Linked DNA regions of Homo sapiens: region 1 is linked to region 2. The links come from fine-mapping of genetic effects on gene expression. A gene starts in region 2. The other region holds a variant in brackets. All regions are shown on one strand. Distances are from middle to middle.

Region 1 (5,368 bases), 59 kb after region 2:
GGGACTCCCTTCCTGCCCACCACAGCAGATTTATCCCCCCAATCCATGCCCCCACTCTTCAAGTTGTCATCCTCAAGAAGTTCAGCGCACAGTACCTCAGCCTGTCCAGTCCTCCCACTGTCATCACTTCCAATCCTCTTCCCAGCTTCAGCCACAGGAGTCTGGCAGGGCGGAACAAGGGTCTCAGAGAGGGGAGAAAATGAAGGGGAAGATGGTGAGCCAGGTCCCATCCCAAGGGCCATGTGTACACATGGAGGCTGGTGTGGACTATCTATCTCCAGGCCCAGGAGAACCCTCAAACTCTAAGGTTCTGGTCTCAGGCAAGAGAAAGGACAAGGCTTCAGCCTCATCCTCAGCCAAAAAGAGAGAGCACCCTAGGAAACCCAAAGCAGGAGACCATAGAAGAGGGACTGCAAGGTTGGGGTTATCCACAGTCACAGGGAAGAACCACCCTGCCCAGGCCAGAAGCCTAGTAGAGGCCCCTGTAAGCACATTTCCCCAAAGGTCTCAACACAGGGGCCAGAGCTCTCAACACACTGCTCTTCCCCAGCTGCTTCTCCCCAAAGCTTCGGGTCCCCAGGATCAGCCAGAGGCAGGGCGAAGAGCAAGTGACATCCTGACCCCTCGCCACTGTAAGCACTGTCCTTGGGCCCACATGGAGAAGTATCTCTCCTTCCCTACCCTCAAGGCTTCCCTTACCAGGGGTTTGCAAAAGGTGTTAGCCAAATGCCTGGATAACCATCGACCCCTACCCACCAAATCTAGTCAGTAGAGAAAAGGCTGGTAATACTAGCACTTGGTATGCCAAGACCTGAAGCCAAACCAGGGGGAAGGTGGGGATGTGGAGACAAGAAATGGAAATTCTAATAAACTAGCTGAATTAGATAAATCCCATTCATGTCTTCTTTGGAATCTAGGGTACTGAAAATGTCAATTCCCAATTCTGCTACAGCCATAGCCCCTCAGTTTCAAGTCCCAGTAGAGCACTCAGGATTCTGCAGGCTTAACTCTTTTGTGGATCTTCACAGATGATCACATCTGGAGTCCACACATCCCTACTCTATAGGGTGAGGCTACAGGGCCAGGTCAGCATAGCCCAAAGCCGCCCTTGAGAGGGAACGACTTCACAGCATGTGAACAAAAAACTACATCCATTCACACGAGCACAGGTCATCTGAGTCTAGGCAACTGTGCTTTGTCCTGGGTATTGTTCTCTTCTTCATCCACTTGACCTGTAAGTTCTCCACGTATCTTTCTGACCATTTCTTCTCAGCCCTCTGCTCTTTTCTCTCCCTGGGTCAGCTCATCCATCTCCAAGGCCATGAAAACAAGTGTCTTTTAATACGTCTAGTAACCGTCTGGATTTCTATAATCACCGGGTCATATCCTCTACCCATTTTCTAATGCACTATTTGTTGGACATTGTATTAGTCAATGTATTACAGTTTTCTACTGCTGCTGTAACAAATTACCACAAAACAAATTTATTTTGTCAGAAGTCTGACACGGAGCCTGGGTGCAGTGGCTCACATCTGTAATCCCAACACTTTGGGAGGCTGAGATGGGCTGATAGCATGAGCCCAGAAGTTTGAGACCAGCCTGGGCAACATGACAAAACCCTGTCTCTACAAAAAAAAAAAAACAAAAAAACCACAAAAATTAGCTGGGCATGGTGGTGCATGCCTATAGTCCCAGCTACTGGGCAAGGTGAGGTGGGAGGATCACCTGAACCAGAGAGGTCAAGGCTACAGTGAGCCACTGCACCACTACATGCCAGCCTGGGCAAAAGAGACCCTGTCTCCTCCCCGCAAAAAAAGTCTGACACATGTCTCACAGGGCTAAAATCAAGGGGTTGGCAGGCCTACATCCTTTTCTCTAGGCTCTGGGTAGGATTCACTCCTTGCCTTTCCCAGTTTCTAGAGGCTGCCCACATTCCTTGGTTACTGACCCCCTTCTTCTATCTTTAAAGCTAGCAAAGGCAAGTCAAGTTCTTCTCACATTGTATCACTCTGACCTCTTCTGCCTCCCTCTTCCACTTTTTTTTTTTTTTTTTTTTTTGAGATGGAGTCTCGCTCTGTCTCCCAGGCTGGAGTGCAGTGGCACGAACTCGGCTCACTGCAAGCTCCGCCTCCCAGGTTTTATGCCGTTCTCCTGCCTCAGCCTCCCGAGTAGCTGGGACTACAGGTGTGCACCACCTACGCCGGGCTAATTTTTTTGTATTTTTAGTAGAGACAGGGTTTCACCATGTTAGCCAGGATGGTCTCGAACTCCTAACCTCGTGATCCGCCCGCCTTGGCCTCCCAAAGTGCTGGGATTACAGGCGTGAGCCATTTTTTTTTTTTTTTTTTTTGAGACAGAGTTTCACTCTTATCACCCACGCTGGAGTGCAATGGCACAATCTCGGCTCACTGCAACCTCTGCCTCCTGTGTTCAAGTGATTCTCCTGCCTCAGCCTCCTGAGTAGCTTGGATTACAGGCATGCGCCACCACGCCTGGCTAATTTTGTATTTTTAATAGAGATGGAGTTTCTCCATGTTGGTCAGGCTGGTCTCAAACTCCTGACCTCAAGTGATCCACCCGCCTCGGCCTCCCAAAAAGTGCTGGGATTACAGACATGAACCACTGCGCCCGACCCTACCTCTTCCACTTTTAAGGACCCTTATGATTACACTGGACAAAGCTGAATAATCCAGGACACCCTTCCAATTTAAAGTCAGTTGATAGCCAGGC[G/A]CAGCAGTGGCTCATGCCTTAACAGTCCCAGCATTTCAGGAGGCCAGGGCAGCTGGATCGTTTGCGGCCAGGAGTTCAAGACCAGTCTGGCCAATATGGCAAAACCCCATCTCTACTAAAAATACAAAAATTAGCCTGGCATGGTATGTGTGCCTGTAATCCCAGCTACTCCGGAGGTTGAGGCAGGAGAATCGCTTGAACCCAGGAGGCGGAGGTTGCCAAGATCATGTCACTGCACTCCAGCCTTGACGACAGAGCAAGACCCTGTCTCTAAATAAATAAATGAAGTCAGTTGATTAGCAACCTTAATTCCACCTGGAACCTTAATGCCCCTTTTTCCATGTGAAATAATATATACATAGGTTCCAAGGATTACGACGTGGGCATCTTGAGGGCCATGATCCTGCCTACAGAGATAGTGACCCAAACTATTATGTATGTTCCAAATATTTTCTTCCAATTTGTATCTTATTGGCTAATTTTATGGTGACTTCTATTGTATCAAAGAAAAATTTTTTTATGTAGTTAAATCTACCAACACTTTACTTCATGACTTCTAAAACATTTTCTCCTGGCACTTTGATAATTTTGCATATTTATGTTTTAGATTACCGATTTTTATGGTATGAGGTGATAATCTAACCTTCCCCAAAATCATGTCCAATTTACCAATACCATTTTTTAAAAATAGAATGTCTTGAGCCCATTCCATTAAATATGGTGTATTGTAAAAACATGAGTCATTTCTAAGCATCTCTAGGCTTCAGGTCCCCATATTCAACAGCATACCAGACATTATCTCATATTTGACTTGTCCAAAAACGTATTTTCCCTTTAACTTTTTCCTCCAACACGCCCATTCCTATCAAAATGCATGACATCCACCTAAATACTTAAGCTTTGACTCTTCCTTCCTCCCTGATCTAAGCCATCACCAAATCTTGTCAGCCAGGCTCAGTGGCTCATGCGTGTAATCCCAGCACTTTGGCAGGCCGAGGTAGGAGGATCATTTGAGGTCAGGAGATCGATACCAGCCTGGGTGGTACCCCATCTCTACTAAAAACACAAAAATTAGCCGGGTGTGGTGGTGTGCACCTGTAATCCCAGCTACTTGGGAGGCTGAGGCAGAAGAATTGTTTGAACCAGGAGGCGGAGGTTGCAGTGAGCTGAGATCATGCCACTGCACTCCAGCCTGGGCAATAGAGCAAGACTCCATCTCAAAAAAACAAAACAAAACAAAACAAAACTTGTCAATTATACCTATGAAATGTATTTCAAATCCATCTTCCCCTCTCCATTTCCACCATCACTATTGTCTTAGTCATTATTTCTCACTAAATTGGTTGCTCTATTCCTTCTAATCCATCCTGCACATGGCTACAATTCTCTGGAGATCAACTGCCCCGATCTCTTCAACAAGTGTCATAAAAGTTTGAGTAAAAGGCTAGGGGTGGTGGTACATACTTATAAGCCCAGCTACTTGGGAGGCTGAGGCAGGAGAATCCCTTGAGCCCAGGATGTAGTGTGCCATGACGATTGGGAACCGAATGATGCTAAGTTTGGCATCAATAATGGTGACCTTCCAGAAGTGGGGGACCACCAGTGCCTAAGAAGGGGTGAACTGGCCCAGGTGGGAAACACAGCAGATAAAATTCCTGCACAGATCAGTAGCGATATAGCACCCGTAAATAGCCACTACACTCTTAGCCTGAGCAACAGAACGAAACCCTGTCTCTTATTTTTCAAAGTTTGAATAAAGGAATCTAACAGATGCCAACTTGTGGACCTAGGTTAGATATTGGTTTGGTCCAAATAGCTGTGAATGATATTTGGGTCGCTTGGGGGAAACTCCGAATATGGTATGGGTATCTAGTTTGGTTCTTGACCTCTAGAATTTTGCTTTTAGGGACAGGGTCATGCTCTGTCACCCAGGCTAGGGTGCAGTGGTGTAATCACAGCTCACTGCAGCCTCTAACTCCTGGGCTTAAGTGATCCTCCTGCCTCAGCCTCCTGAGTAGCTAGGACTACAGCTGTGTACCACCATGCCCAGCAAACTTTTTTTTTTATTTTTTGTAGAAATGAGGACTCACTCTTGTTGCCCAGACTGGTCTCAAACTCCCGGCCTCAACCAATCCTCCTGTCTCGACCTCTCAAAGTGCTGGGATTATAGGCATGAGCCACCATCACCACGCTCAACCAAGAACATTTACATAAAGGGAAAGGTAAAGATACTGACCAAGGCCGGGCACGGTGGCTCACATCTGTAATCCCAGCACTTTGGGAGGCCGAGGCGGTGGTGGATCACGAGGTCAGCAGATCGAGACCATCCTGGCTAACATGGTGAAACCCTGTCTCTACCAAAAATACAAAAAAATTAGCCGGGCTTGGTGGTGGGTGCCTGTAGTCCCAGCTACTAGGGAGGCTGAGGCAGGAGAATGGCGTGAACCCAAGAGGTGGAGCTTGCAGTGAGCCGAGATCTCACCACTGGACTCTAGCCTGGGCAACACAGCAAGACTCCATCTCAAAAAAAAAAAAAAAAAAGATACTGACCAAAACGAAAAAGTTATAATGCAGTATGATCTCAATTTGGGTTTAAAAATACCACATGTATAGACACGTACACATACACAAAAAAGAT
Region 2 (5,368 bases):
TTAGCAACCATGGGAACCCCTGGCAACCATTACCATGGTGACAAGACAGGGAACTGAAAACAGGCTGGGGGCACTTCCTCTGCAGCCTTCGGGATGTGAGCAGGATAGGGGCTCCCTTCCCTATACAGTCTGGGAGGGAACATGTGCCTCTGTCTAAAACACCTCCTCACTGGCACCCACCCCCACCCCTGCCCACGGGTTCCGGTTCCCTCAGGGTGAGGAAATGAGGGACACCTAGGGTTATGACGTCTCCAAGGGGAGGGAGGGTGAGTGGGGGCGTTTGGGACTGGCATGATCGCAGATGCGTGCATACGCTGGCAGACATGGTGTCAATGTGTCAGTGCCTATATACCTTATCCACTCTTTGTCATGTAGACACATGCCCGCACAGTCATTTACTCACACATGTACACTGACCCAAAATCATATACCTACAACATATAACAGAATCAGGCACACCACCACACAAAAATAACTGCACAGATCCACTCACAAATCACATTACCAGTACCACACTACAAATAACTCCCAGACTCACAGATTTATAGATGCACTCGCACTCCCAGCATCTGTGAACATGTAGAGTAATGGTTAACTTGGTTGAGTTAACCAAGTTAACCATTGGTTGGGTATAAACTACATGCCCAGCTCAGAACTAAGTGCACTACCTGTGTTACCTTAATTAACCCTCTCAACAACCCCCTGAGGCACCAATCCCCATTTACAAAGGAGATGAGGCATGAGTGTGGCGTGTAAGCTCACAAGGTGCATAGACTCCAGACCACACTGTCACAGTCCATGCCACACTGAGCACTACACACACGTGACACCCAGGACAATGGGACTGAGGGCGGGAACCGAGGACTAGGCAAACAGTGGAGTCTGTGCCACCAACACCTGAAGGCACAGTTCTGCACCCTCAAAGGTCCGAGCCTACACTTTAGCATTAGCAGGGGCCAGGTAAAGGCTGGTGACTAAACTCTCTGCCTCCGTGTTGGCACAGGCAAGGCTGGGGGAGGCAAAAGAGACAGAACTGGAATAGGAAGAAGTAGAGCCACCCACAGCCTGGGCCCCACAGGTGTGGAGGTGGAAGAGTGAGAGCCCCCAGATCTGAGGAGCCAGCAGCGGTGCAGGGCCCCTCACCCCACCTTACCCATCTCTGTGTCACACAGAGATGTCCATCCCTCCTCCCTCCCCTCCCCCTTCCTCACTCCTCCTCACCCCATCTCTGTGCCTCATCCTTTCATTACTCACCCCTTCTTTCCTCATCCCTCACCCTGCCTTCCTGCCCCTCCCCAGCCCTTCTTTCCTTATCCCCCACCCTGCCTTCCCTCCCCTCCCCAGCCCTCCTTTCCTCTGCCCTCCTTACTCCCACCCTATGGCTCATCTGCCCCATGCCCCTCCCCTCCTCATCCCCCTCACCCCATCTCACCATCCTCTCACCACCCCCTCTCCCTACCTCCCCCCCTCAACCCCATTTCCTCAAATTCCTCATGCTCATTTCCCCACATTCATCACCCATCTCTGCTCCCCTCCTGGCCCCCAACCCCACTTCCTTTCCATCCTCCTTTCACCCCAAGTCTCTTTCTTCCTTCACACCTCATGCCCCTTTACCCTTGGGAGCCCCATAGTGACTCCTGGCATGAAGGTAGGTAGTGAAGAATCTACAGACATGACTCCAGGACCCTGGCACCCCCCCCCCGCCTTGCTCTGCTCTTGGCCCAGGTACTCAAGCTGCAGTTTCTAGCAAGACCTCATGGGTGTCCAAACTCTGTCTCTGGAAAATAGGAAAGAAAGAAGTAAAGGGGAGCTTCCGGCCTGACCCTTCTATCATCATCAACCCCCCAGCACTCCCCTCCCCCACTTCACCCCCAAATTACTCCCTCCCCACCCCCGCTCCCTCGAGCACAGATGGGCCTGGGAGACAGTGACGTGGGCGCCAGGCACCGTGTCTGCTGGAGTGGCGGCTTCCGCTGGCGACCGCCTCCGCAGCCCCGCCTGCTCCCTGCATCGGGGACACTGGGGCTGAGATCTAATGACTTAATGGGGGGTGGGGGAGACTAGAGATTCTGAGGGTGTTAAGGAAGGGGATCTTGGGGAGTGAGATGAAAGATGAAAGGGGAGAGCTAGGATAGGAGATCGGGGTGTAAAGAAAGAACCAAGAATAAGACAAAAGGGATCACTGCGGGAAGGAAGACAGGAGATCATCTAGGGCCAAGAAGGAAAGGGCTAAAACACAGGCACTCCAGGGGGAAGCAGGATGAGAGACTGATTAGAAGAGGGACTGAAATGGAGACCGCGGGGTCGCTGAAGAGGGGCGCGAGGATGAGGGGCTGTACAGAGGGTGGGCGGGGGAGATTCCTGGAGGCACCGGCCTGGGCAGAGCCATCCGTTTCCCTCGGGGGAGAGGTCCGGGGGGCTCTGAAACCCGGCATCCGTGGGGTCTGTTAGAGATTCCGTTAGGTCACATCAGGCCACCGCGGGGTCAGGATAAGGTAAAGCTAAATGAGGTCAGCTTGAGGTGGTTACACCGTTGGCTGAAAGGCGAGTAAGAAGTGCTGACCTTTTGGCCCCGGTCCAGGGACTACACCTCCCAGAGTGCACTGTTCTCTCCCTCTTGCCCCCCAATGAAGAAAGGAAAGAATGCACGGCCGCACGGCCAACTGGTGGGTACAGTTTTCCTTTAAGGCTGCCTTTGACGTCGCAAGGGTTCCAGAAGGTTCTCCTGGGATTCGAGCAGTGGCCAGTACGTCCCACCTTCTCAACCCGGAGATTGGACTAATATAGTTTGCCCCCGGGCTCGGGTCTGAGTCTCAGGCACGAACCAATAAAATCAAAGGGCGAGCGAGGTTGCCGCCCTCTGTCTTTTTCACCAATGGCACGACAAGATGGCAAAGAGGCGTGGTTGAGTGATCCCAGAGGGCGCCAATCAGATCCACACCAATCACTGCCTGGAATGTGTGCGCGTGTGGCCGGGTGACAGGGGCGGAGGATGGGCGGCTATCACCAAGCCGCTTGTTGAAAACTGCCCAATCACAGTGGAGGCTGAGCTGAGTGACAGGAAGACGGTTCAATGGGCGGCGCGGAGGCGGAGCCGTGGGGGCGGGCTCCCGGTCCCGCTATCGGCGGCCGGCGGGCAGGCGACTCCTGTCCCGGGTGGAGGCGGCGGAGCCGGAGCCGGGGGAGGGGGCAGCGGCTGTCTCACGGACCACGGCGGCGCCCGCAGCTCCTCACCGGTGAGGGCGCCAAGCCAGGACTCGGGGGTCCCGGGAGCGGGGCGTCGTGAAGCCAGGGCTCCTGGTGTTGGGGGGTTGGGACACTGAGGGCCCGTAGGCTCTGCTGCCTTGGGGATGCGGGGCCCCGGGGTCTGCAGGGTGCTCGGAGTCCTAGACCAGGGCTTGGCTGTCACAGGGGGCAGCCAGCGTCTGAGTCGGGGAGGGGAGGGGAGGGGAGGGTCGAGTCGGACCGGACCAGATTGGGTTCTGTGGGGCGGAGGCATCTGTGAGCAGACCAGCCAGCCAGCGCGGGTGACATCACCGACCACCCTCCCCCGCCCGAGCCCCCTCCCCTCCTCTCCTCGCCGCGCCTTTTGTCCCGGCCGAGCTCCGCTCTGCCCCGCCCATCTGCGAGGGAGGAGACTCCCGTCAGTGACTTCATTGAGTAGGTTCTTGGGGATTGGGGTCGGGTCCTCCCCAGTGAGAGGCGACAGGAGCTCACTGCCTCTCGGGCCCTCACAATCACACCTGTCACAGGTATACACGCTGCCACTCACAAACACACGCTTGCACTCCCAGCCTCACTGACACGCTGCCATACAGCCGCTCACAGCCAGCCAGACACTGCTGCACCTGAGAGCAGGTGGCCGCGGGTCTTCTCCCTTCACTCTCCACATTTGGGGATCAGGTCCGGCACCTGCTGCGCCAGACAGGCCTTGCTGGGCACGCGCCTCTGAGAGTCCAAGGAGGTGGCTTCCAGAGCTGCAGCACTTCAGGCCGGCTCCGGTGGAGCGATCAGAGGTGAGGGGCTTGGCTGGGCATGTTTAAGCGCACAGTGCTCTCCTGCCCACCCCCAGCAGCACCCCCACTGCAGGCCCGAGGAGCTTTCCGGAGCTTCCCACACTCCTGGGGAGAAGACTTCTTAGCCAGCTTGATGTTTAAAATTCAGCTGGAGCCCTTAAAACTTCGAGCGTGGACGCTGAATGGGTTTGTAAAGTTTCGGTAAGTCCCTCCGGAGAAGGGCACTCACACCCATACCCAGTCAAACCCTCCACGCGGCCATCCCCTCCATTGCCTTCCTGCTTCCTCCAACTCATCCTCATCCCCTCTGTGACATACAGGAACCCCCCTCCGGCCTCACCCACATATTTGAATGAATTGCACCCCTTATCATTCCTTTTCTCAAACCCTTCAGGTATCCATTTTCCACAGACATTTCCTCCATTATTTCAACTCTCCACATTCCTCCCTTTCAACCCATCATTAACCCATTTTCCACCTCAGCCATTTCCATCTGTCACTCATCCCCCTCCATCAGTACCTCATTTTCTGTATCAGCCATCTCCCCTCCCTGTACCTCAACAGTCCCCCTCGCCATTTTCTCCCCATTTTTCCTTCCTGCCTCTACCTTAACATCCTCCTCATTCTTCTCCATCAAAGGCAGTGCCATGCCATGGGGCTCCTTTGTCATTCCAACACGTGGCCTGTGGGTAGGGGGGAAGGGAAGGAGGGAGGAAAGCAGAAAGAGAAAAAGGAGGCAGATCCTGAAAGAGCTTGCCCTGTGTCTGCGGAGGCAAGAGATGTATGGGCCTAGAGCAGCTAGCAGGTGGGTACCAGGGAGGAAGCTGGCCGGGTGTGGAGGTAATGCAGGGACACCAAAAGGAGGTGGGTGGTTGGTGAGCCGTTCCACTGGCCCTCTGCCTGGAAGCTGCTCTCGTTCTCTAGGGGCACCCTCTTGGTGTGCTAGGGTTCTTTCCCAGTCCCAGGGGAAAGAAGGTGTGGGTTGAGGCAGAAATGGCAGACCACCCCCCCCCGCTCCCTCTCAGACGGCTTTTGCTGCCATTTCCGAAAACGGTTGCCCCCCCCCCCAACGAGGTGCTCTTTCTTCTCTGCCTCTCCCAACCCCACCCCCCACCCCATCTCCCCCACAGACGTGACATGCTGGTGGGGGGCAATGGGGGAGTACCCGCCTTTGTGGAGCCTTTTCTTCGTCAGAGAAAGGTGACTCCCAGAACCATGAGTCAACCCAGCCACCTGCAGCAGGGCCTGTGGGGGCAGCAGTGAGGGCCATTGTCCCTGCCCACCTAGGGCCTTGGGCGCCTCCCCCTTACCCGGTTACAGGCCTCACTCCTGGAAGGACACCCTGTACACCT

The links. PIP is the estimated chance that this variant, and not a neighbour inherited with it, causes the effect. A credible set is the group of variants that fine-mapping cannot tell apart.
Region 1: its variant is the best candidate, but not a certain one, in a credible set for the expression of DNAJB5 in whole blood (INTERVAL, PIP 0.53).

Annotation. Positions count from the first base shown.
Region 1 is chr9:35,045,098-35,050,465 of GRCh38, forward strand. SPATA31G1 (SPATA31 subfamily G member 1) reads left to right here. Exons shown (of 2, transcript NM_203299.4): 2 at 1-889. The coding sequence ends at 772. It also overlaps the pseudogene RN7SL338P. Among named protein-coding and RNA genes, the nearest start is that of SPATA31G1, 5.5 kb to the left of the region's middle. The variant G/A (reference allele first, on the strand shown) is at 2,731.
Region 2 is chr9:34,986,596-34,991,963 of GRCh38, forward strand. DNAJB5 (DnaJ heat shock protein family (Hsp40) member B5) reads left to right here and starts at 3,150. Exons shown (of 5, transcript NM_001349723.3): 1 at 3,150-3,236; 2 at 3,904-4,217. The coding sequence starts at 4,036. DNAJB5-DT (DNAJB5 divergent transcript) reads right to left here and starts at 2,784. Exons shown (of 2, transcript NR_109756.1): 1 at 2,564-2,784. RefSeq lists enhancers at 2,571-2,780, 3,335-4,264, 4,265-5,194 and silencers at 2,891-3,390, 2,905-3,053.